Homo sapiens: one gene and its partners. The protein of the gene in region 1 purifies or fractionates together with the protein of each later gene. This does not show direct contact. Each region holds a gene or a part of one and is shown in the gene's direction. Other genes may lie near its edges.

Evidence for each region.
Region 2: the proteins of TERT (region 1) and RPL3L purify together in Homo sapiens (affinity purification with mass spectrometry, with the first as the bait; one large-scale study listed by BioGRID). This does not show direct contact.
Region 3: the proteins of TERT (region 1) and FOXM1 purify together in Homo sapiens (affinity purification with western blotting; one study listed by BioGRID). This does not show direct contact.
Region 4: the proteins of TERT (region 1) and PSME3IP1 purify together in Homo sapiens (affinity purification with mass spectrometry; one large-scale study listed by BioGRID and IntAct). This does not show direct contact.
Region 5: the proteins of TERT (region 1) and SMARCA2 purify together in Homo sapiens (co-immunoprecipitation; one study listed by IntAct). This does not show direct contact.
Region 6: the proteins of TERT (region 1) and NAT10 purify together in Homo sapiens (affinity purification with western blotting, with the first as the bait; one study listed by BioGRID). This does not show direct contact.
Region 7: the proteins of TERT (region 1) and MKRN1 purify together in Homo sapiens (affinity purification with western blotting; 2 studies listed by BioGRID). This does not show direct contact.

Annotation. Positions count from the first base shown.
Region 1 is NC_000005.10:1,264,069-1,267,568, reverse strand, and holds part of TERT (telomerase reverse transcriptase), read left to right. Parts: intron 1-1,033; coding exon 1,034-1,105; intron 1,106-2,976; coding exon 2,977-3,165; intron 3,166-3,500. UniProt on the Homo sapiens protein: Telomerase is a ribonucleoprotein enzyme essential for the replication of chromosome termini in most eukaryotes. Active in progenitor and cancer cells. Inactive, or very low activity, in normal somatic cells.
Region 2 is NC_000016.10:1,948,190-1,951,689, reverse strand, and holds part of RPL3L (ribosomal protein uL3-like), read left to right. Parts: intron 1-710; coding exon 711-846; intron 847-3,500. UniProt on the Homo sapiens protein: Heart- and skeletal muscle-specific component of the ribosome, which regulates muscle function. Component of the large ribosomal subunit in striated muscle cells: replaces the RPL3 paralog in the ribosome in these cells.
Region 3 is NC_000012.12:2,863,675-2,867,174, reverse strand, and holds part of FOXM1 (forkhead box protein M1), read left to right. Parts: intron 1-653; coding exon 654-782; intron 783-1,775; coding exon 1,776-1,820; intron 1,821-2,229; coding exon of another isoform or gene 2,230-2,290; intron 2,291-2,419; coding exon of another isoform or gene 2,420-2,422; coding exon 2,423-2,492; intron 2,493-2,679; coding exon 2,680-2,855; intron 2,856-3,500. UniProt on the Homo sapiens protein: Transcription factor regulating the expression of cell cycle genes essential for DNA replication and mitosis. Plays a role in the control of cell proliferation. Also plays a role in DNA break repair, participating in the DNA damage checkpoint response.
Region 4 is NC_000016.10:57,151,966-57,155,039, reverse strand, and holds the end of PSME3IP1 (PSME3-interacting protein), read left to right. Parts: intron 1-532; coding exon 533-750; 3' UTR 751-2,574; downstream 2,575-3,074. UniProt on the Homo sapiens protein: Promotes the association of the proteasome activator complex subunit PSME3 with the 20S proteasome and regulates its activity.
Region 5 is NC_000009.12:2,189,847-2,193,346, forward strand, and holds part of SMARCA2 (SWI/SNF-related matrix-associated actin-dependent regulator of chromatin subfamily A member 2), read left to right. Parts: intron 1-1,419; coding exon 1,420-1,562; intron 1,563-2,857; coding exon 2,858-2,893; 3' UTR 2,894-3,500. UniProt on the Homo sapiens protein: ATPase involved in transcriptional activation and repression of select genes by chromatin remodeling (alteration of DNA-nucleosome topology).
Region 6 is NC_000011.10:34,108,629-34,112,128, forward strand, and holds part of NAT10 (RNA cytidine acetyltransferase), read left to right. Parts: intron 1-113; coding exon 114-205; intron 206-3,423; coding exon 3,424-3,500. UniProt on the Homo sapiens protein: RNA cytidine acetyltransferase that catalyzes the formation of N(4)-acetylcytidine (ac4C) modification on mRNAs, 18S rRNA and tRNAs.
Region 7 is NC_000007.14:140,459,006-140,462,505, reverse strand, and holds part of MKRN1 (E3 ubiquitin-protein ligase makorin-1), read left to right. Parts: intron 1-2,569; coding exon 2,570-2,799; intron 2,800-3,272; coding exon 3,273-3,499; intron 3,500-3,500. UniProt on the Homo sapiens protein: E3 ubiquitin ligase catalyzing the covalent attachment of ubiquitin moieties onto substrate proteins. These substrates include FILIP1, p53/TP53, CDKN1A and TERT.

The DNA of each region.
Region 1 (3,500 bases):
TTTGCTACTGTGAATAGTGCCGCAATAAACATACGTGTGCATGTGTCTTTATAGCAGCATGATTTATAATCCTTTGGGTATATACCCAGTAATGGGATGGCTGGGTCAAATGGTATTTCTAGTTCTAGATCCTTGAGGAATCACCACACTGTCTTCCACAATGGTTGAACTAGTTTACACTCCCACCAACAGTGTAAAAGTGTTCTGGTGCTGGAGAGGATGTGGACAGCAGTTATTTTTTTATGAAAATAGTATCACTGAACAAGCAGACAGTTAGTGAAGGATGCGTCAGGAAGCCTGCAGGCCACACAGCCATTTCTCTCGAAGACTCCGGGTTTTTCCTGTGCATCTTTTGAAACTCTAGCTCCAATTATAGCATGTACAGTGGATCAAGGTTCTTCTTCATTAAGGTTCAAGTTCTAGATTGAAATAAGTTTATGTAACAGAAACAAAAATTTCTTGTACACACAACTTGCTCTGGGATTTGGAGGAAAGTGTCCTCGAGCTGGCGGCACACTGGTCAGCCCTCTGGGACAGGATACCTCTGGCCCATGGTCATGGGGCGCTGGGCTTGGGCCTGAGGGTCACACAGTGCACCATGCCCAGCTTCCTGTGGATAGGATCTGGGTCTCGGATCATGCTGAGGACCACAGCTGCCATGCTGGTAAAGGGCACCACGTGGCTCAGAGGGGGCGAGGTTCCCAGCCCCAGCTTTCTTACCGTCTTCAGTTATTTTTCCCTAAGAGTCTGAGAAGTGGGGCCGCGCCTGATGGCCTTCGTTCGTCTTCAGCTGGCACAGAATTGCACAAGCTGATGGTAAACACTGAGTACTTATAATGAATGAGGAATTGCTGTAGCAGTTAACTGTAGAGAGCTCGTCTGTTGGAAAGAAATTTAAGTTTTTCATTTAACCGCTTTGGAGAATGTTACTTTATTTATGGCTGTGTAAATTGTTTGACATTCAGTCCCTCGTAGACAGATACTACGTAAAAAGTGTAAAGTTAACCTTGCTGTGTATTTTCCCTTATTTTAGGCTGCTCCTGCGTTTGGTGGATGATTTCTTGTTGGTGACACCTCACCTCACCCACGCGAAAACCTTCCTCAGGTGAGGCCCGTGCCGTGTGTCTGTGGGGACCTCCACAGCCTGTGGGCTTTGCAGTTGAGCCCCCCGTGTCCTGCCCCTGGCACCGCAGCGTTGTCTCTGCCAAGTCCTCTCTCTCTGCCGGTGCTGGATCCGCAAGAGCAGAGGCGCTTGGCCGTGCACCCAGGCCTGGGGGCGCAGGGGCACCTTCGGGAGGGAGTGGGTACCGTGCAGGCCCTGGTCCTGCAGAGACGCACCCAGGTTACACACGTGGTGAGTGCAGGCGGTGACCTGGCTCCTGCTGCTCTTTGGAAAGTCAAGAGTGGCGGCTCCTGGGGCCCCAGTGAGACCCCCAGGAGCTGTGCACAGGGCCTGCAGGGCCGAGGCGGCAGCCTCCTCCCCAGGGTGCACCTGAGCCTGCGGAGAGCAGGAGCTGCTGAGTGAGCTGGCCCACAGCGTTCGCTGCGGTCACGTTCCTGCGTGGGGTTGTTTGGGATCGGTGGGAGAATTTGGATTTGCTGAGTGCTGCTGTCTTGAACCACGGAGATGGCTAGGAGTGGGTTTCAGAGTTGATTTTTGTGAATCAAACTAAAATCAGGCACAGGGGACCTGGCCTCAGCACAGGGGATTGTCCAATGTGGTCCCCCTCAAGGGCGCCCCACAGAGCCGGTGGGCTTGTTTTAAAGTGCGATTTGACGAGGGACGAGAAACCTTGAAAGCTGTAAAGGGAACCCTCAGAAAATGTGGCCGCCAGGGGTGGTTTCAGGTGCTTTGCTGGGCTGTGTTTGTGAAAACCCATTTGGACCCGCCCTCCAAGTCCACCCTCCAGGTCCACCCTCCAGGGCCGCCCTGGGCTGGGGGTATGCCTGGCGTTCCTTGTGCCGCAGCCCGGAGCACAGCAGGCTGTGCACATTTAAATCCACTAAGATTCACTCGGGGGGAGCCCAGGTCCCAAGCAACTGAGGGCTCAGGAGTCCTGAGGCTGCTGAGGGGACAGAGCAGACGGGGAACGCTGCTTCTGTGTGGCAAGTTCCTGAGGGTGCTGGCCAGGGAGGTGGCTCAGAGTGTATGTTGGGGTCCCACCGGGGGCAGAACTCTGTCTCTGATGAGTCGGCAGCCATGTAACAGGAAGGGGTGGCCACAGGGAGCTGGGAATGCACCAGGGGAGCTGCGCAGCTGGCCGAGGTCCCAGGGCCAGGCCACAGGAAGGGCAGGGGGACGCCCGGGGCCACAGCAGAGGCCGCAGGAAGGGAAGGGGATGCCCAGGCCAGAGCAGAGGCTACCGGGCACAGGGGGGCTCCCTGAGCTGGGTGAGCGAGGCTCATGACTCGGCGAGGGAACCTCCTTGACGTGAAGCTGACGACTGGTGTTGCCCAGCTCACAGCCCAGCCAGGTCCCGCGCCTGAGCAGGAACTCAGAACCCTCCCCTTTGTCTAAAGCACAGCAGATGCCTTCAGGGCATCTAGGAGAAAACAGGCAAAGTCGTTGAGAAACGTCTTAAAAGAAGGTGGGATGGTGGCAATTTCTTGTCCAGATTTTAGTCTGCCCCGGACCACAGATGAGTCTATAACGGGATTGTGGTGTTGCCATGGGGACACATGAGATGGACCATCACAGAGGCCACTGGGGCTGCACCTCCCATCTGAGTCCTGGCTGTCCCGGGTCCAGGCCAGGTTCTTGCATGCTCACCTACCTGTCCTGCCCGGGAGACAGGGAAAGCACCCCGAAGTCTGGAGCAGGGCTGGGTCCAGGCTCCTCAGAGCTCCTGCCAGGCCCAGCACCCTGCTCCAAATCACCACTTCTCTGGGGTTTTCCAAAGCATTTAACAAGGGTGTCAGGTTACCTCCTGGGTGACGGCCCCGCATCCTGGGGCTGACATTGCCCCTCTGCCTTAGGACCCTGGTCCGAGGTGTCCCTGAGTATGGCTGCGTGGTGAACTTGCGGAAGACAGTGGTGAACTTCCCTGTAGAAGACGAGGCCCTGGGTGGCACGGCTTTTGTTCAGATGCCGGCCCACGGCCTATTCCCCTGGTGCGGCCTGCTGCTGGATACCCGGACCCTGGAGGTGCAGAGCGACTACTCCAGGTGAGCGCACCTGGCCGGAAGTGGAGCCTGTGCCCGGCTGGGGCAGGTGCTGCTGCAGGGCCGTTGCGTCCACCTCTGCTTCCGTGTGGGGCAGGCGACTGCCAATCCCAAAGGGTCAGAGGCCACAGGGTGCCCCTCGTCCCATCTGGGGCTGAGCAGAAATGCATCTTTCTGTGGGAGTGAGGGTGCTCACAACGGGAGCAGTTTTCTGTGCTATTTTGGTAAAAGGAAATGGTGCACCAGACCTGGGTGCACTGAGGTGTCTTCAGAAAGCAGTCTGGATCCGAACCCAAGACGCCCGGGCCCTGCTGGGCGTGAGTCTCTCCAAACCCGAA
Region 2 (3,500 bases), on another chromosome or scaffold:
TGGCTTCTGGCTGGGCACAATGGTTCATTCCTATAATTCCAGCACTTTGGGAGGCTAAGGCAGGCAGACCGTTTGAGCTCAGGGCTTCGAGACCAGCCTGGGCAACATGACGAAACCCGTCTCTACAAAAAAATACAAAAAATTAGCCGGGCACGGTGGCGCATGCCTGTGGTCTCAGCTACATGGGGGGTGAGGTGGGAGGATTGCTTGAGTCTGGGAGCTCCAGGCTGCAGTGAGCTGTGTTTGTGCCACTGCACTCCAGCCTGGGAGAGAAAGTGAGACCCTATCTCCAAAAACAAAAAAGAAAGGATGGCTCCCAAGCCCGAGGTGCCTGGCCATGGCACCCACTGCACCCTTGAGAAGTGGGACCAGCAGTCTGAGCCATGTGGCAGGTGGGGTGGTCTCTAGGTGCCTGGACTGCAGGGCTGGCCAGCCGCCTTCTCTGAGCTTCTGCACCTCTGCCACTCACTCTCAGGCCCCGGGAAACAGGGAGGGTACCTACTTTACAGAGGAGGAAACCGGGGCCTAGAGGGGGAGAGACAGTCTATGTTCAAAGATGGTGGCTGGAACCAGCTCAGAGGCCTCCGGGTGGGGGGCGGTCCCAGAGGTAGGACCCCTGCTTGGTGGGCTGGGGGTGAGGTGGGGGCAGGATAGGCCTGGGGAGCTGCCCCGGTTGGGGGCTTCTGAGCACCCTCCTGTGCATGGCTCAGGCACAAGAGCAAGAAGAAAGCCTTCACCAAGGCCTGCAAGAGGTGGCGGGACACAGACGGGAAAAAGCAGCTACAGAAGGACTTCGCCGCCATGAAGAAGTACTGCAAGGTCATTCGGGTCATTGTCCACACTCAGGTCAGCCCCCGGCCCTCCGCTGTCGGTCAGTCCCTAGGACCACGCTCCCTCACCCCAGCTTCCAGGAGCTGTGGCAAATGTCAGCCTAAAAATACCCGAGCCTCGGCACAGACCCAGAGGAGCGGCTGACCAGCCTCGCTGGCCACGTGCAGCCCCAGGCATGGCTGCTGAAAGGCATCGGTGCCTTCTGGGGTGCCAGGGGCATCAGCCACGCCGGCTAGTCAACTAAGACCCTGGCACGCCCTGAAGAGCCGGGTCCCCAGCCAAGTGTGCTGTGTGGAGGGCTGGTCACCTCTCTTCGGTTTCCAGCGTAAGTGTGCACAGGAATCCGTGTTTGTACATGGGTCTGGCTTGCTGTAGGCTGACAGGCAGGCGGCACCCTCCAGCTTATTCTGGAACACTCTTTGGCATCTTTGTCCTCAGGGAAGGCTTCCCGAGGCCCTAGAGCAGTGCCCCCGACCCTGAGCTTCCCACAGCCCCCACACTGCCCCCAGCTGCTCGCACACTTGTACACCATGCCTGGGCCAGTCACTGGTGTGTGTTCATCTCCCTGGACAGACTCCAGGCAGGCAGAGGCCCTGGGCGGGGCCACAGCTGCCACCAAGAGCCTGGTATGCAGGAGGTGCTCTGTAAATACCTGCCCCATACATACCCGCCCCATACATACCCACCCCATACATACCCACCCCATACATACCTGCCCTGTCCATACCTGCCCCCTACATACCTGCCCCGTCCATACCTGCCCCCTACATACCTGCCCCGTCCATACCTGCCCCCTACATACCTGCTCTGTCTATACCTGCCCCGTCCATACCTGCTCCCTACATACCTGCCCCCTACATACCTGCCCTGTCCATACCTGCCCCGTCCATACCTGCCCCTTACATACCTGCCCCTTACATACCTGCCCCTTACATACCTGCCCCCTACATACCTGCCCCCTACATACCTGCCCCCTACATACCTGCCCCCTACATACCTACCCCGTCCATACCTACCCCGTCCATACCTGCCCCGTCCATACCTGCCCCGTCCATACCTGCCCCGTCCATACCTGCCCCCTACATACCTGCCCCCTACATACCTGCCCCGTACATACCTGCCCCGTACATACTGCCCCGTCCATACCTGCCCCGTACATACCTGCCTCATACATACCTGCCCCATACATACCTATGGGTCACTATGTGTTCCCCGCTGGCCTCTCTGTCTCCACCTCTACATTGCACAGCCTGTGCTTCACACAGCACCAGCCAGAGACCTTACCAAAAAAAAAAAAAAAAAATCAAGCCAGACATGGTGGATCACGCCTGTAACCCCAGCACTTTGGGAGGCCAAGGCAGGCGGATCACCTGAGGTCAGGAGTTCGAGACCAGCCTGGCCAACATGGCAAAACCCCATCTCTAGTAAAAATACAAACAAATTAGCTGGGCATGGTGGGCGCCTGCAATCCCAGCTACTTGGGAGACTGAGGCAGGAGAATCACTTGAAACTGGGAGGTGGAGGTTGCAGTGAGCCAAGATCGCACCATGGCACTCCAGCCCGGGCGATAGAGTCTCAAAAAAAAAAAAAAAAAAAAAAGAAAAAAAAAAAAAACAAAAATCAGGCCCAGTGGCTTACACCAGTGATCCTAGCACTGTGGGAGGACAAGGTGGCAGCCCGGGCAACTTAACGAGACCTCATCTCTACAAAAAAATTAAAAATTGGCTGGGCATGGTGGTGCATGCCTGTAGTTCCAGCTACTTGGAGAGGGGTGCTGAGGCAGGAGGACTTCGAGACCAGTCTTGGCAACATAGGGAGATCCCCATCTCTACAAAAAAAAAAAAAAAAAGCCAGGCGCGGTGGCTCACGTCTGTAATTCCAGCACTTTGGGAGGCCGAGGCAGGCAGATCAGGTCAGGAGATTGAGACCATCCTAGCTAACGCGGTGAAACCCCGTCTCTACTAAAAATACAAAAAATTAGCCAGGCGTAGTGGCACAACCTGTAGTCCCAGCTACTCGGGAGGCTGAGGTAGGAGAATGGCGTGAACCCAGGAGGCAGAGCTTGCAGTGAGCCGAGATTGCGCCACTGCACTCCAGCCTGGGCGACAGAGCAAAACTCCGTCTCAAAAAACAAACAAACAAACAAACAAAAAAAAAACAACTGGGCATGGTGGTGAGTGCCTGTCATCCCAGCTACTCAGGAGGCTAAGGTGGGAGGATTGCTTCGGCCCGGGAGGCTGAGGCTGCAGTGAGCCTTGATCATGCCACTGCACTCCAGCCTGGGTGACAGAGCGAGACCCTGTCTCAAAATAAAAATATAAAAAAATAAAAATCAGGCCAGGTGCAGTGGCTCATGCCTGAACCCTAGCACTTTGGGAGGTCAAGGTGGGTGGATCGCTTGAAGTCAGGAGTTTGAAACCAGCCTGGCCAACATGGGAAACCCCAACTGTACTAAAAATACAAAAAAATTAGCCGGGCATGGTGGCACACACCTGTAATCCCAGTTACTCAAGAAGCTGAGGCAGGAGAATCACTTGATTCAGGGAGGCAGAGGTTGCAGTGAGCCGAGATCGCCCCACTGTACTCCAGTCTGGGCAACAGAGCGAGACTCCATTAAAAAAAGGCCGGGCGTGGTGGCTCACGCCTGTAATCCCAGCACTTTGGGAGGC
Region 3 (3,500 bases), on another chromosome or scaffold:
CTAGTTTCTTGTTTGTTTGTTTGAGACGGGGCCTCACTCTGTCACCCAGGCTGGAGTGCAGTGACATGATCTTGGCTAACTTCAACCTCTGCCTCCCAGGTTCAAGTGATTCCCCTGCCTCAGCCTCCCGAGTAGCTGGGACTAAAGGCATGCGCCACCATGCCTGGCTAATTTTTATATTTTTGATAGAGACAGGGTTTCACCATGTTTGCTAGGCTGGTCTCAAACTCCTGGCCTCAAGTGATCCACTCACCTTGGCCTCCCACAGTGCTGGGATTATAGGCGTGAGCCACCACGCCGGGCCTAATTCCCTAGTTTCTTAATTTCTCTGAGCCACCTTTCTTGCTATTGATCACTACCTCACAGCCTTACTCTGCTTTTCTAGCCCCTGACAGCTATCTAGGTCTTTTCTTTATCACAATCTAAGGTTGGCATCAGTCTTTATTCCCGTAGAATAGATGGGTTTATGGCTGAAGGTGACGGCTCTGCGGTGTGGAGTGTCAGGAGAGTTGCCAAGAGGGCTGCAAAGACACCAGACGAAGCCTGTGCTGAGCACAGTGGGAGGGGCCTGAGGCTGGTTTCCCCATGTGTTTGAAGGGTGATGTTTCTGAATCTAAAGTAGCTGATAACCAGTTGTCTTGCTCTTCTTCCAGAACTCCATCCGCCACAACCTTTCCCTGCACGACATGTTTGTCCGGGAGACGTCTGCCAATGGCAAGGTCTCCTTCTGGACCATTCACCCCAGTGCCAACCGCTACTTGACATTGGACCAGGTGTTTAAGGTGAATGCCCTGCTTTCCTCTAAATAGGGCCTAAGTTGGAGGTTGTCATAGCCATCTCAAAAGGAAACAAGTTCTGCTAGTGATGCTTTCATTTGATCAGGGGAGAGTTAGAAGCCAGCCACCCAATTAGTGACTTGCACAAAACCCAGTGAATTAAGTACACTTGACAAATACCAAATGACACATTTTTGTGCCAGACCAGAGCAAGGAGAAGGCTGTTCTGACCCAACAGAAAGGGCTCCCCAGGGCAGTGTTTTCCTAACTTCCCTGTGAATGGGAATTGCCTGGGACATTGTTAAAACACAGCTTCCCAGACCCCTCTCTTGGGGCTCTTGATTTAGTGCTTCTGGGATGGGCCCAGGAATTTGTATTTTTAGCAAGCATCTCAGGTGATTCTTACAAGAAATTCTGGGAATGCTTGCTCTAAAAAAAGCCCTTCCTGCTGGGTGTGGTGGCTCACGTCTGTAATCCCAGCACTTTGGGAGGCTGAGGCAGGTGGATCACCTAAGGTCGGGAGTTGGAGACCAGCCTGACCAACATGGAGAAACTCCGTCTCTACTAAAAATACAAAAATTAGCTGGGTGTGGTGGCGCATGCCTGTAATCCCAGCTACTTGGGAGGCTGAGGCAGGAGAATCCCTTGAACCCAGGAGGCGGTGGTTGTGGAGAGCTGAAATCGCACCATTGCACTCCAGCCTGGGCAATAAGAGTGAAAGTCTGTCTCAAAAAAAAAAAAAAAAAAAAAAAAAAGCCTGCCTTAGGCTGGAGACCAGAAGCTGAGCTACCAGAACGTCTTTTCAGAAAGAAGTTATTTTGGTTTTTCAGAGTGCCCATAAGGCTGCTGGTAGCTGTAACCATTCTCCTGGGAGGGGCAGTTGTCTGGGGTGTCTTTTGTCATCAGTCAGGAATAAGTGTTTTTCCCAATCCGGTCAAATTGACCACGTTGGTGGTAACTTCATCTCATTTCTCTCCCACAATGCCTGGCCGCCACCAGCCACTGGACCCAGGGTCTCCACAATTGCCCGAGCACTTGGAATCAGTAAGGTTCTTTCCCTCTGGCTCGGGGCTTGGCCTTGTTTTCCTTTCACTGCTCAGCATGGCTTTAGTGGACAGAGACAAGATGTGATGTGGGGAAGGGTCCCTATGGCCATGTTTTGTCTAGGTGCCAGCCCTAGACACAGAACACCCTGAGGGTCAGGCACACACCCACTTCCCTCCCCTTCCATGGGCATCACAAGGGCACACTGAGCAGAGCAGGGCACAGCAGGGGAGCATGCTGCAGCAGCCACAAGCGCATGGCACCAGCCTCAGGGGCGGCAGTTCGTTCGCTCACTTTTGTGCCTAGCTTTTCTTTGCCACGCATATAGCTACCTGCTCTGGCATCCCCCAGGGGTGTTGAGGACACGTGGGTGAAGCGGTAGTGCCACTCTGCCATCATGTGTCTGTAGGCCACCCACCTGCCCACTCATCACAGTTTTGGAGACTGCTCGCCTACGTCCATCCCCTCAGGTTGGCCTCCTCTCTCTGGGCTGTCATTAACTCAAGCACACACCACCAGAGCAGCTGGTGGGGTTTTGCCATCCCCTCTTTACCTTATTGTGTTAACATAGGTTTCTTTCTCTCCCCATCTGCCACAAGCAGCAGCAGAAACGACCGAATCCAGAGCTCCGCCGGAACATGACCATCAAAACCGAACTCCCCCTGGGCGCACGTTAGTATGGGAGAGTGGGCCTTGGGCCTGGTCCTTGTTCTGGGGCCATATCTTTAGGGAACCAGACTCTGGGATTCTGTTCCCACCTCAAAGGGATCTGAGCCCAGAGAAGGAGAGCAAAGCTCCTGGGGCTGAGAAGGGGTGTACTCCAGTCCCCCTGCTCCTGATCTCTCGTGTTTCCTCCTAGGGCGGAAGATGAAGCCACTGCTACCACGGGTCAGCTCATACCTGGTACCTATCCAGTTCCCGGTGAACCAGTCACTGGTGTTGCAGCCCTCGGTGAAGGTGCCATTGCCCCTGGCGGCTTCCCTCATGAGCTCAGAGCTTGCCCGCCATAGCAAGCGAGTCCGCATTGCCCCCAAGGTGGGTGTCCTATTTTCCTCTGAAGAGAGATTCTGGCCAATTAAGAATGTTGGACCTTCAGCTTGCAAAGCACTCTGATAAGTGTTCCTTGAGAGCTTATAAATCTAGTTGGGTAGAAAAGGCATAAAAACATAGGGAAGTGTAATAGCATTAGAAGAGCTAAAAAGGTATTTGGATTACAATGTAAGTGGTGTCAGAAGGCCCATAAATACCTGATGAGCTTGTAAGAATTCAGACAAAAGTGATTGTGATAGATGGGCTAGGATTATTAAGGAAGATACACAAGGGAGGCAGGCCTTAGAAAGAGATGGATTTGGCCGGGCGCTGTGGCTTACACCTGTAATCCCAGCACTTTGGGAGGCCAAGGCAGGTGGATCATGAGGTCAGGAGTTTGAGACCAGCCTGGCCAACGTGGCGAAACCCCGTCTCTACTAAAAAATACAAAAATTAGCTGGGCTTGGTGGCACATGCCTGTAATCCCAGCTACTTGGGAGGCTGAGGCTGGAGAATCACATGAGCCCAGGAAGGGAAGTTGCAGTGAGCCGAGATCACTGCACTCCAGCCTGGGTGACAGAGCGAGACTCTGTCTCAAAAAAAAAAAAAGAAAAGAAAGAAGTGGATTTGAGGCTAGACGCTGTGGGTCTC
Region 4 (3,074 bases), on another chromosome or scaffold:
AAATGTTTAAAAAGAAAAGAATGTTATTTTGTAGCTGATGTTTGGCCTTAAAATTGTATCTGTGCTAGCTGGCTTATTGGTCAGTAAATAAGAAATGGTGTAATACGCTGAGAACTTAATGGAATTGTTAATATTGCTCACAGTGTCTCTCTTAATCTGTTTTCAGATTCTCACGGCTGTGTGAGCACAGGGAAATCAAAGCACTCTAGGCTACACTCCAGAGTAGCTTGTTCTCCAACTCGGATTTGATGGGGAACAAGAGAGTGTAGTCAGGCTCTGGGGTTAAAAAGACCTTGATTCAAGTCTCAGCTCTGCCCCTTTACTTTCAGAAGTCCTTTCACCTCCTGGAGCCTCCCTTCCTCCTTCAGTTTCCCCATCTCTAAAACGAGGGTGATGATAGTATTGGCTGCATAGCATTGTTCTAAGGCTCCTCTGTGGGAAAATCCCTTGGTACAGTGCCTGGCACATGGTAAGTCAGTCCCCAACTTTGGAAAAGGGTGATGAAGTGACAGTCTTTCCCCTTTTATTGCAGAGCCCTCATCCTGCAAGTCTCTCGGAAACACCTCCCTGAGTGGCCCCTCCATCCACTGCCCCTCTGCTGCAGTATGTATCGGCATCCTCCCAGGCCTGGGTGCCTACTCTGGGAGCAGCGACTCCGAGTCCAGCTCAGACAGCGAAGGCACCATCAATGCCACCGGAAAGATTGTCTCCTCCATCTTCCGAACCAACACCTTCCTCGAGGCCCCCTAGTTTCTCCGTCCCTACACAGGGAGCTCCTCCCCAAGGGTAGATCGGACCGTTCATGCTGCCTATAGGCATTATGTCCCTCAAAAAAAAACTCCTTTGCCTGCATCCTGTGTACAACATGACATTTTTAACCAATCCAATCTAAAAATGTGCCAGAATCCACCTGTGGCCCGAATCGTGTTTGGTTCCTCTTTCTACTCCACTGCAGATGACCAAACCTGTCCCGCTGCCACTTTCCTCACTGATATTGGGAGGAGGGCAAGGCCCAGCCGAAGTTCCACTAAAAATGCCCCAGGAGAATAGGCACCGGCTGGCTTGCCAAAGGGTTTGGGTTTTATTGCTTTCTGTTTTTTCTTTTCCCGACAGCACAAAGAAGTAAGGGCAGTTATTGGACAGGTGTTATTTAAACATTCTATTGTAAATGAATGTGTTGTTTGGTTCTACTGCATTGTGGAGCATGCGGGGGAAGAGAACTGACCCAGGTAGTGAAATGGAGCCCTTCCCTGGAACTAACCAGTCCTTGATGTTGTGTGACTAAGTAAAGATGATAAACCCCATCTGCTGGGGGTGTCACTTCACACTCGGCATGCATTGTGAAAGCTTTCCATACCCTTGGCCATTCCCTCTCTCCTCTCTCTCCAACCCCATTTATGCAGGAAGGGACTGCTAACAAGAACGCTTCCATCTCAAACCTTTTCTCTGCCTGGGAAATTATTTTATGTTTGTTTTTGAAATAAAGGATTTAGTTTAAGATTCTAAATTTTAGAGAAACAAACGTAGGCCTTGTTTACTAATAGCCAGACATCAGAACTGCAGGTAGGTATGTTAATGAGATGACTTATTTCTGGCAGCTCCTGGAATCCTAATATTGTAAATGAGTGGGACACACTTGCATATTGTGACCATTCTATTGAGGCCCTTCTCTGTTTAATGCATATTATACTTGTGCTTTTAACTGTGGAATCTATTTCTAACCTAAAGGTGCTGCCCTAGTACTTTTCTTTGCTGCCTCTGCTGCTCTTTTTCCTTTCCAAACAGCAACTCTGAGGCCATGAGCAGCCAAAAACTAGAGGTACTGCTCCACCTCGTCTCATAAAGGGAAACGGGCTCATCCCTTGGATTCTGGAGGAGGGAGAGGGAGATGGTGTGGAGGCCTCGAGGACAGAGATAGACATGAGCTTTGACAACAATCTGTAGGCTCTCCTGCTTTAGAATAAGCATGTACCATTCTTTATCCATTCCCCTTATTCCTACATCAATTGTTTTTACTTTCTTGGGTGTGAGACTGAGTGAGACACACACAAAATGTGTTGACACTGTGATGCCGGCAGGCAGAGCAGCTACTGACTTTGAACATGGGCAGAGAGGCCCCTGGATCTCATCCAGCCCACTCCTTTTCCCCTTCCAGTACAGTGACACTCTGGTGCCCATTGGCAGATGGCGACTTCCCTGCACCCATAACTGATGCTTTGTGAATTCTTCCTCCTTTTCAGAACTACTCTGTGCTAATTGTTCTGCCAGTATGGGCGCATCAGCTCCATCCTGACAAACAAGACATTTAGGTAAAACTTTGTAGGCACCTTCTGCTTCTCTGCTTCATTGTTCCTGTGATAGTCCTGTTGTTATTACAGCATGTACCCAAAACAGCCTCACATTGTTACAGGAGGCAGGCCAGGACATCAAAGTCATCATCTTTATGTGGCATGACTCTTAAGAGGCCATTACTGTATCTCATGGCCTCTTGATGTGGAAAGAAGTTGACAGAGGGTTGCAGGGTTTAAAAACATCCATTAACATGAAAGCTAATAAACCTGTCAGAGAACAAGATCTTGTTTTTCCTCTACTGAATATTGTGCTTCCACCTCTCCCCATGTCTCTCAGCTAGATTGTGTTGAGAAGGTTGAGTGAGACTCTTCAGACTGTGACTTACCTTCTGGTGTCTCAGGAGAGACTGAGAATCACTGGTGATCATTGCATCATATTCCATTGTCCCCATCAGCACAGAGCTCTGGAACTGAAACAGAGCTTCTGTAGCAACCACAGCTAACAAAGCAGCGTCTGATCTGACCAACAGAGGAAGCAGCCTTGGAAAGTATCTAGTGTAGACCTTGAAGTTCAAACCCAAAGGAGAATAGAATAAACAGGGCTGGAAGGAAACACTGCTTTAAACTGTAAAGTGTAGTACTCCTGCCTTAATAATTGGGATTTTATGGTAATTACGGGACAAAAACAAAGTTTGGCATGGGTTTCTTTAAGCTCGCTTACTTTGTTCTGAGTGGTAGGATTCTTACAATTCTCCAGCCATGTGAGGGAGAAAGCTAATAGGA
Region 5 (3,500 bases), on another chromosome or scaffold:
GAGATTTTAGTTTTGGAAATATTTTGTGGGTCCCTCTACTTCACAAAAGAAGTCTGAAACAAACACTCTCATCTCCTTCTGGAGCTAGGATTCCCTCTATGACAACATCTATTTCTAGATGCCTTGAGACCCACCAAACATGGTAGTCTAGCAAAGCTAGCTTGAATGAGAGACCCACATTTTCAGTGCCTTCATCATCAAATACCAAAAATGGTATTCTGTGGATACCTATCCCAAATAGCTACCATGGAGCAGATTGTCTTTGTTCTTTGGGATATGTACCTATATTTGTGATATTGTACCTTGAACTCTTCCAAGTGTTTCCATTGGTATCCCCAGAATAGTCCTGTGAAGGTGGAAATGGGTGCAGTCTTTCTGAAGGCTAATCTGACAGAGCACTGTTAGAAATTTACCATATGGACATGTCCACCATACCTCCCTCAAATTCTACCAAGATACATTGAAATAGGTTCACAGCAGCTTTGTTTATACTAGCAAAAAAAGCAGCAAACTTCAGCCCTCATCATATGAGACTGATTAAATAAATTATAGTATACCATACGATGGAAAATTTTCAGGTATTTAAAAGAATTAGGCAGGTATGTATGAGGCTTTACCTATAAATATCCCACATATGTGAGTAAACAGCCAAGTGGAGAATATGGACATGTATAAAGATCCCTTTGGGATAACTACATAAAGAATTCAAGTATGTACGTGTGTATATATACTTACTTGAATTCTTTATATTCTATAGAGAGACTTTTATAGAATATGTAGAATCACACACACACACATACACACAGAGAGAGAGAAATGGATGTACTTGCAGGTATGGACATAAACATTTTTTTTCCTGGAAATAATTAGTTATAGGGAAAGAGACTAGGAATGGGGGAAAGGAAGCATTCAAAAGTGTTTTCTTTTTACTTTCCATTTTGTACCTTTATGTTAAAAATATGATTGAACTATTTGAATTTTCTTTTTAAGTCAATGGAGTTATCTACATGGTAAAATTATTGGCCTTTAAACTCTTTACATTTATTTATATTTTTAATGTAAAAGTTCTATTAAATGATTGCCCAACACCTCCACAAGTAGAAAACACTTCCCCTCATTATCCTTGGTCAGCCATTGGGAGACAGGTGAAGGATCCAGCCCCACTGTCCTCCATGAGACCTCGGTCCCTCTTGTTGCCTGTTTAGCGTGACTACATCATTTATCTTCCAAAAGAAGACAGGTTGGCAAGTGAAAGGGGTCGCTGACTAGACAGAACCACACAGAACAGGCATAAACCGGGAATGTTCTGGGCACTCTGGGATGTTTGTGTTGTCTGTAGGTTGGTGATAGTCTTACCACCTATACAAAGATCTCCTTGTGATTACTCACTGGTGTCTATTTCATTTGCTTTGGTTTTAGCAAAATCAGTCAAGGTGAAAATTAAGCTCAATAAAAAAGATGACAAAGGCCGGGACAAAGGGAAAGGCAAGAAAAGGCCAAATCGAGGAAAAGCCAAACCTGTAGTGAGCGATTTTGACAGCGATGAGGAGCAGGATGAACGTGTAAGTGTAGCCGACTGGGACTGAAGGCGGAGACGCCCTCTCCCCTGCTTGCTGGCCTCTTGCATTTCCATGCCCCTTCAGCCTTTTCGCTTTATTACCCAGGACTGGAAATGTCAGGATTTAGTGAGATTTCATTATTGAGGGATGTGAACGGAGCTGTATGATTTAGAACAAAGGATTGGGGGCTTTGTTTATTGCCTTTTTAATAGTCTTCAAAAATGAAAAACTACCAAATCAAGCTTCCCTTTCCCCCTTTTTAATCTTCCCACATGCTTTCTTATAAATATGGTTTTCCCCGTAGCCAGTTAATATTTTACATGCATCACAGCCAGCATGGTGCCTGGTACATAACAGTAGATTAGATGGAAGAATGAGAAAAACTGTTATGACGTCAGAGTTATTGGCTCGAGTTGCTACTTAAGGGACCATGTAAAAACTCAAAGGACTTTTTAAGTACCTAGGGGTGTTATTTTTCATATTTGAAAAATTCAGTGAGCATCTATTGAGCCAGGCCTTGTAATAGGTACCTCCCTGTGTGGTAGCATATTAAATACTGATGTCGGCATCGTGAGATAGATGTCACTCTCAAATAACATGTTATGGAAATGGTTAGGTTATGGGTGTTTTGCTACAGATCACGTCGCAGAGGTGGAATTCGGACCCGAGTAGCATAACTCAGTCTAGTGTGCTATGTCTGACTGGGCAGCAAGGTAGAAGAGTGGGCAGAAGCTCCTAATACCTTGCCTTTTGAAATACCCTTCATTTCATCCATTCACTTTCCAGAGGATGGTTTCCTGGCACCCACATTATTTTCTTTCTGGAAAGATAAATTTCCCTTTTCCTAGTTTGATTTTCCTTCAACACATTACCATTTTGGTAAAATTTCAGAATTATGATCTCACCCCAGCCTTAACCCTTGATGCAAGCATTTTCAAATACATTTTTCTTTAGGAGATGTCAAATGCAGGGTATTTTTTTTTCTCCCATGAATTTTCTAAAACCTGGGGCTGAAAAAGAGAAAATATTAGCCATAAACCTTTCAAGCCAAAGTGAAAGGGCACAAACAATAGCTTAGAGGGTGGGCTTTGCTTTGGGGTTTTTCAGTAAGAAAAACTTCTCAGCTTAGAGACTGTCGATGCCTCTTTAATGTGTTTCTGTCCTCCCACGGAAAGAGATTTGGCGAGTTGTTTCCAAAATGTCATTTTTTCCTACTGGCCTCTTGATGGTTTGTTGTTATATCTTCTTTTTCTTGCATGTGATGTTACTTCATTTTATCTTCTTATTTTTACTTTTAGGAACAGTCAGAAGGAAGTGGGACGGATGATGAGTGATCAGTATGGACCTTTTTCCTTGGTAGAACTGAATTCCTTCCTCCCCTGTCTCATTTCTACCCAGTGAGTTCATTTGTCATATAGGCACTGGGTTGTTTCTATATCATCATCGTCTATAAACTAGCTTTAGGATAGTGCCAGACAAACATATGATATCATGGTGTAAAAAACACACACATACACAAATATTTGTAACATATTGTGACCAAATGGGCCTCAAAGATTCAGATTGAAACAAACAAAAAGCTTTTGATGGAAAATATGTGGGTGGATAGTATATTTCTATGGGTGGGTCTAATTTGGTAACGGTTTGATTGTGCCTGGTTTTATCACCTGTTCAGATGAGAAGATTTTTGTCTTTTGTAGCACTGATAACCAGGAGAAGCCATTAAAAGCCACTGGTTATTTTATTTTTCATCAGGCAATTTTCGAGGTTTTTATTTGTTCGGTATTGTTTTTTTACACTGTGGTACATATAAGCAACTTTAATAGGTGATAAATGTACAGTAGTTAGATTTCACCTGCATATACATTTTTCCATTTTATGCTCTATGATCTGAACAAAAGCTTTTTGAATTGTATAAGATTTATGTCTACTGTAAACATT
Region 6 (3,500 bases), on another chromosome or scaffold:
TTCCCTTCCCTGGCCCTCAGTTTAGTTTCCACATCCGTCAAATGAGGTCTTAAGCCTGGCGGTCTCTAAAGTCTCTTTTGTGCCTGAAATTCTGTGACTTTTTTGTTTGGCAGGTGGTAATACTTCATCACATGTTATCCAAAGCAACTGTGAAGGCTCGGCCTTCAGTGCTGTGGTGTTATAAGAAAGAGCTGGGGTTTAGCAGGTAAGCTGGGCTCTTCATGTGTTTTATCCAACTTACAATTCCTGCTCATTAGTTAAATGCCAGGAAATGATTCCTTCACATATTTTTTAAGGGTCTTTAGTGGAGGTGCTATCTCTGAGGACAAATGGAGCTGATATCCTTTCTTCATTCCTGAAAATAAGTTTCAAATCATTTTCATGCTTTTTAAGTCACCAATCCAATGCCTTGCCTTCTGCATATGGTTTTCCTTCCTGCTTTTCTAGGCTGATTAAGCCCATCTCATTGCAAGTTCCTTCAAACTGTCTTTCCTACCTCAAATTTATTCCACTTTTCACTCTCTCTCTTTTTCTCCCCTTCTTTCATGGAGGGGGTATATGCCTCATCCCATGTCCAAGGAAAACCCCTTTATGTACCCTGTGTCTCCTCCCTCACCTCTTTCAGGACCTGTATTGTCTTTCCTCTGCTGGCCACCCAATACCCTTTGGAAACTTTCTCCTTCCTGTAAACATGCTCAGATTTTTCTATTATCAAAAGCTGATTACTTACATACCCAGATTTCTCTCTCAGGTTAGCATTTCCCCCGATTTTTATTGCCATATACCTTAAAACAGAAATCTTTTGCACTTAGTAGCCACTTTTGCAGTCTGGTTTCTGCTTCTATAATTGTGATCAAATTGTGCAGTTAGACATCCCCAGCAGCTTGATGCCTAATGCGTCAACTTTTCTCTCTCTTTCTCCTCCTTTTCAGAGCTCTGCCTCTTCTTCTACCAGTTCACTGCTGTATTTGACAGTTGGCTATTTGAAGCTGTGGTAGTCAAGACTTTTAGTCATAGATAACATACTTTCAACACAAATACAATTTGGCACAAAGGGATTTCATTGAGGTATATGGGATATTTCCTGGAATCCAAGGGGATAAGATTTCAGCTCTGCTCACGGGTGATCTAGAGTCACAGTACTAATGCTCCCAGCTCAGTTTGTCATCTCAGTGTATCTGCTCTATGCAGACCAACTTTCTCACTGCAGACCAGCTTTCTGTTTTCTGTTGTCCCCCTAGCAGAAACAACACTTGCGTTTTCCTTGTTTCAGGCCCAGCCATGTGGAAATCAGACTTTTTCCCAAAATTCTGGTGGAAAAATGCCCACACCTGGCCAGAGGAGGGTGGGGTTGGTCATAGCATAATACAAAGTTGGAAGTTCTACCTACAACTTTGTGTTTGGAGAAGTTTGGATGGGGTGGGTAGTGCTGTTCCTTGGCAGATAACCACCATGGCATCACCTAAGAAATAGTCTCCTTTTTTGGCTTCAGTGTCTTTACTCAGACCACCTTCCGGAGCTCTTCTCTTTCTCTGGATCTCGTCTCCTTACTCTAAACCTAGCTGGCTTGTGCGATTCTGTCCTTGAGCCTCTTCTAATTTCCAAATGTGCTCATCTCCGATCTGACTCTGAAAGCCTGTCTCCAGCTCTGGTTGCTTTATGCTGTGACTAACCTCCCTCCTTTTCTTTGCTCATGCTGTCTCCTCTGCTTGGAATGCCACTTCCACCTCCCCGGTATCACCTATTGAAATCCTGTTTCTCAGGGCCTGCCTCCTCCGTGAAACTTTTCCTGAGCCCCCCAGTCATACCTGGTGGTTCCTCTACCTTCCTCTGCACTTGTCCTTCTCCTATAATGTTTGCCAATGGATGCTTTTGCTTTAGGGTAAAGTCACTTACATACTGTGACTTACGTTCATTTTTTTTTCTTTCCCTTTTTTTTTTTTTTTTTTTTTTTTTACTTTCAGGTGATAAGCTTATTTAGTTAGGAGCCCTCTTCTATTTATCTTTGTATTTTCATACTTTTAACTGATTTAGCATGTTTATCATAGGTACTCAGTATACATTGAGTTGGATGTGTTGTTAACAGGCTCTAAAATTATTTTAATTTAAATTAGTACCAGAGGCTAAACTTGCCCCTGTCCTGTGGTCTTAAAGTGAAGGGATTCTGCCTAAAGGAAACCAGACAATCATAAGAGCCTTACTGATGAAATGTGAAAAGTGCAGAAAACCCAAAGATGAAAATAAAAAACATCTCACTGTCTAGGCATTGTCAGCATCTAGGTGTATCTTACAGGGATGTAGTTTTGAACCATAATTGGTATTCTGTTGTATATACTCTCATATTTAGAGAGGTAGGCATTTTTAATACAGATTGAGAATAAGGCCTGTTGTCTATCCCAGAATTTTAAGTTTTTAGGGCTTCTGGTTTTCACTATTTTTCATTTGGCAAATATGAGATGGGTGTGGAATTAGGCAGTTCAAAGTCTTCTGGGCAGATTTGCCTTTTGAATTTAAACCACCTGGCTTCACTTCTAAAAATCTACTTTTGTACCTCTTATAGCTCTTCTGCCCCACCCCTGTCTTAGTCTGGCAGAGCATTGTGTTCAAGCTAATGCCTGTTTGTAAGTCACGGGCTTAAGGCCTGAGCCAGAAGGGACAGTGGAGACAAACTCACCCACTGCCTTGGTTCATAGATGAGGAAGTGGAGGCCCACAGGAGGAAAGGCCTTTGTTCTAGCTATTAAGTTAGAGAACTATGGTAAAATTTTGATCAGCTGTAATCCTCCATTCTAGAACATTCTAATTCTCTCTTTTGGTAAAGGAAAGGTAAGTAGCAACTGGATATGCAGGGTTTTTAAGACCAAAAAAATTCAGGAATTCCTTAGAGATGTCCAGATTCCATTCTGATCCCTGTGTCCTGTATCATTATTGTCTTATGTAAGACCTGCCCTTGAAGACATAATCCCACATTCTCGGGGAGGAAGTCCTCTAGGAAGGATGAATAAAGTAACGTGCCATCACCTTGTCTTTCCTAGGATCTCTGGGGAACAGCACAGTGTAGTTGAAGCATTGGCTTATGACTGAGATAATGAGGCCACTCAGGTTTGGTTTCAAGCTCTGGCTTTGGCCAAATGTGAGGGTTAGCTACCCTATTACCCATCTTTTAAAGCAAAGTATTTGCTCAAGGTCACAGGGCAAAATAGCAGAGTTCACACATAGACTTATCACTTACTCCAAGCCCTTAAGCACTCTAATGCCTCTCATGCCTCTCCACTGCCCTCCACCTGAAGTGGGCCTCACACTTTCAAGTTCCCTACTAGCTCTGAAAGTCTAAGTGGGTGATCACTGAGCCTTTCCCCTGGTTCCAGCTCTTTAGCTGCTCTGGTTAACTGGCTCTCATGGGATTGGGGGTGTGTGATTGCAGTCACCGGAAGAAAAGAATGCGACAGCTGCAGAAGAAAATAAAGAATGGAACACTGAACATAAAGCAGGACGACCCCT
Region 7 (3,500 bases), on another chromosome or scaffold:
GAGTAGAGCCTTTAGTTAGATTTTACTTTATTTTTGCGTATAAACATAGGCACCTATAACACAGATGACCCAAAGTTAGTAATGTTTCATTATAAGAACCACTTGATAACAAACTATAAATTATGTAGCACAGTTAAATTTACTATATGCATAATTAATACATAGCATCTGAATAAAACTCGGTGTGCCGAGCACGGTGGCTCATGCCTATCACTTTGGGAGGCTAAGGCAGGAGGCTTGCTTGAGCCCAGGAGTTGGAGACCAGCCTGGACAACATAGGGAAACCTTGTCTCTACAAAAAATAAAAAAAGTTAGACCAGCATTGTGGCACACACCTGTCGTCCCAGCTACTCAGGAGGCTAAGGCAGACGGATTGCTTGAGCCCAGGAGGTCGAGGCTGCAGTGAGCTAAGGTCACGCTACTGCACTCCAGCCTAGGAGATAGAGTGAGTCTCTGAAAATCAGTCAATTTCTTAGTGTAAAATGCTAAAAGAATTGTGATAATTGTCTTTTCTTTTCTTTCGAGATGGAGTTTTGCTCTTGTTGCCCAGGCTGGAGTGCAATGGCACCATCTAGGCTCACTGCAACCTCCGCCTCCCAGGTTCAAGTGATTCTCCTGCCTCTGCCTCCCAAGTAGCTGGGATTACAAGCATGCGCCACCATGCCTGGCTAATTTTGTATTTTTAGTAGAGACGGGGTTTCTCCATGGTGGTCAGGCTGGTCTCGAACTCCCAACCTCAGGTGATCCACCCGCCTCACCCTCCCAAAGTGCTGGGATTACAGGCCTGAGCCACCACGTCCAGCAGGAACTGTGAGAATTTTCTCAGGCAGAAAGATGCTTGCTATGCTTTGCTTTTTTTTTATTATTTTTTGAAACAGAGTCTCACTCTGTTGCCCAGGCTGGAATGCAGTGGCCTGATCTTGGCTCACTGCACCCTCCACCTCCCATGTTTAAACAACTGTTATGCCTCAGCCTCTCCTGAGTAGCTGGTATTACAGGTGTGCGCCACCATGCCCGGATAATTTTTTATTTTTAGTAGAGACCAGGTTTCGCCAGGCTGGTCTTACACTCCTGGCCTTAAGTGATCTGGCCTCCTTGGACTTCCAAAGTGTTGGGATGACAGGTGTGAGCCACCGCACCAGGCCAGAAAGAAGGTTCTTGAAGGAAATAGATGTATTTTCCCCACGTATTTGGAGATGGTGGTGGTTTAATGTTTACAGATGAAAAGGAGAGAATGCATAGGGGCAAAATTTGGAAGGGGAAATGGTGAATGGATGGATTTTCTTAGAAAAAGAATGTACATATTGTGTATTGTATAAATATTGTCTCTACCTTTTAATAGTGACAGCATTTTATTTGATGTGTTGGTAAAATGTTCCACATGTCTGCTTATTGACCTTGTGTCAGCCTTGCTTTGAAATCAGTCAGTTTTGCCTGCAGGGTTTCTGGCAGAGTTACCATGGGAACTATAGACTGTCAACTATCTGAAACTCCTAATTAGAGTGGAATTTGAAGTAATAAGTGGTATATAGCCAGGGGTATGGGCCTACAGGCCAAATCTGGCCAAAGGCCGTTTTCATAAATCAAGTTTGATCGGAACAGTTACACATTCCTTTAAATAGTGCCTACACCTGCTTTTGCACTGCAGTTTCAGAGTTGAATACTTGTAGTTGTGATGTTGATTGTATGACCTACAAAGCCTAAAATATTTGTGTATTTGATGCTTTAAACTTTGGTGACCCCCAGTCTATTGCCTTCCTACTCAAAAGTATGGTCTCTGGACCAGCAGTCTTGGCATCACACATGGTATAACTAAATATGCAGAATCATAGGCTTCTCTCTGCACTCACAAATACAGGCACATTGATGCTCAAAGAGAATCCAAGGAATGTATTAGGAATATATGGCCGTACGTGGTGGCTCACACCTGTAACCCCAGCACTTTGGGAGGCTGAGGTGGGTGGATCATCTGAGGTCAGGAGTTCGAGATCAGCCTGGCCAAACGGCATCTCCACTAAAGATACAAAACTTAGCCAGCCTTGGTGGCTGGCGCCTGTAATCCCAGCTACTTGGGAGGCTGAGGCAGGAGAATCCCATGAACCCAGGAGGCAGAGTTTGCAGTGAGCTGAGATCACGCCACTGCACTCCAGCCTGGATGACAGAGCAAGACTCCATCTCAAAAAAAAAAAAAAAAAGAAAAGAAAAAGGTATATATGAAGTTAGGCAGTGAGTGCTTACTTTTTTTTTTTTTTTTTTTTTGAGACGGAGTCTCACTCTGTCGCCCAGGCTGGAGTACAGTGGCATGATCTCGGCTCACCACAACCTCTGTCTCCTGGGTTCAAGTGATTCTCCTACCTCAGCCTCCCGAGTAGTTGGGATTACAGGTGCGCCACCATGCCCAGCTAATTTTTGCGTTTTTGGTAGTGACGGGTTTTCACCACATTGGCCAGGCTGGTCTCGAACTCCCAACCTCTCTGGTGATCCACCCACCTCAGCTTCCCAAACTGTTGGGATTACAGGCTTGAGCCACCACGACTGGCCGACTGCTTACTTTTGAATTTTTTCTTAGATATGAACATAGCAAACCATTGAAACAGGAAGAAGCAACTGCTACAGAGCTAACTACAAAGTCATCCCTTGCTGCTTCCTCAAGTCTCTCATCGATAGTTGGACCACTTGTTGAAATGAATACAGGCGAAGCTGAGTCAAGAAATTCAAACTTTGCAACTGTAGGAGCAGGTTCAGAGGACTGGGTGAATGCTATTGAGTTTGTTCCTGGGCAACCCTACTGTGGCCGTAGTAAGTATTCTGAAGAAGAAAATAAGAGTTAGAGGGCTGGATAGCAGTTCATCCATTTGCTTAGTTTTGACAACTTTCCCCTTTCTGCTTCTATTCCTTTTTTAGTTTAATCTTAGTACAGTACTTTAATTTGGATTACCTAAGATTTACAGATAGAGTGAAGGAAATTTTTAATCCCAGTGAAATGAATTCAGAATGTTTTGAAAAACTGAATCCTTTCGAGTACTTTTTGAAATTAAATTTCAGTTACCCAAGACATAGATAAAGAAGCAATTTTTTTTTTTTACAAGTCTAATCTTGGAAATAACAGCGGTAGAAAAAATTCCTTTCTTTCAAGTGAAGAAGTTAGTTCAGTAGACTGTTTTGGTATTTCATTGCAGTTTTATTTTCATTTTTTGCGGTTAGATTCTCAGTTCTCTTATAGTTCATGCCTTATCTATTTGGACCTTTACCACCCTCTTACACATTTTCAGCTGCGCCTTCCTGCACTGAAGCACCCCTGCAGGGCTCAGTGACCAAGGAAGAATCAGAGAAAGAGCAAACCGCCGTGGAGACAAAGAAGCAGCTGTGCCCCTATGCTGCAGTGGGAGAGTGCCGATACGGGGAGAACTGTGTGTATCTCCACGGAGATTCTTGTGACATGTGTGGGCTGCAGGTCCTGCATCCAATGGATGCTGCCCAGAGATCGCAGCATATCAAAG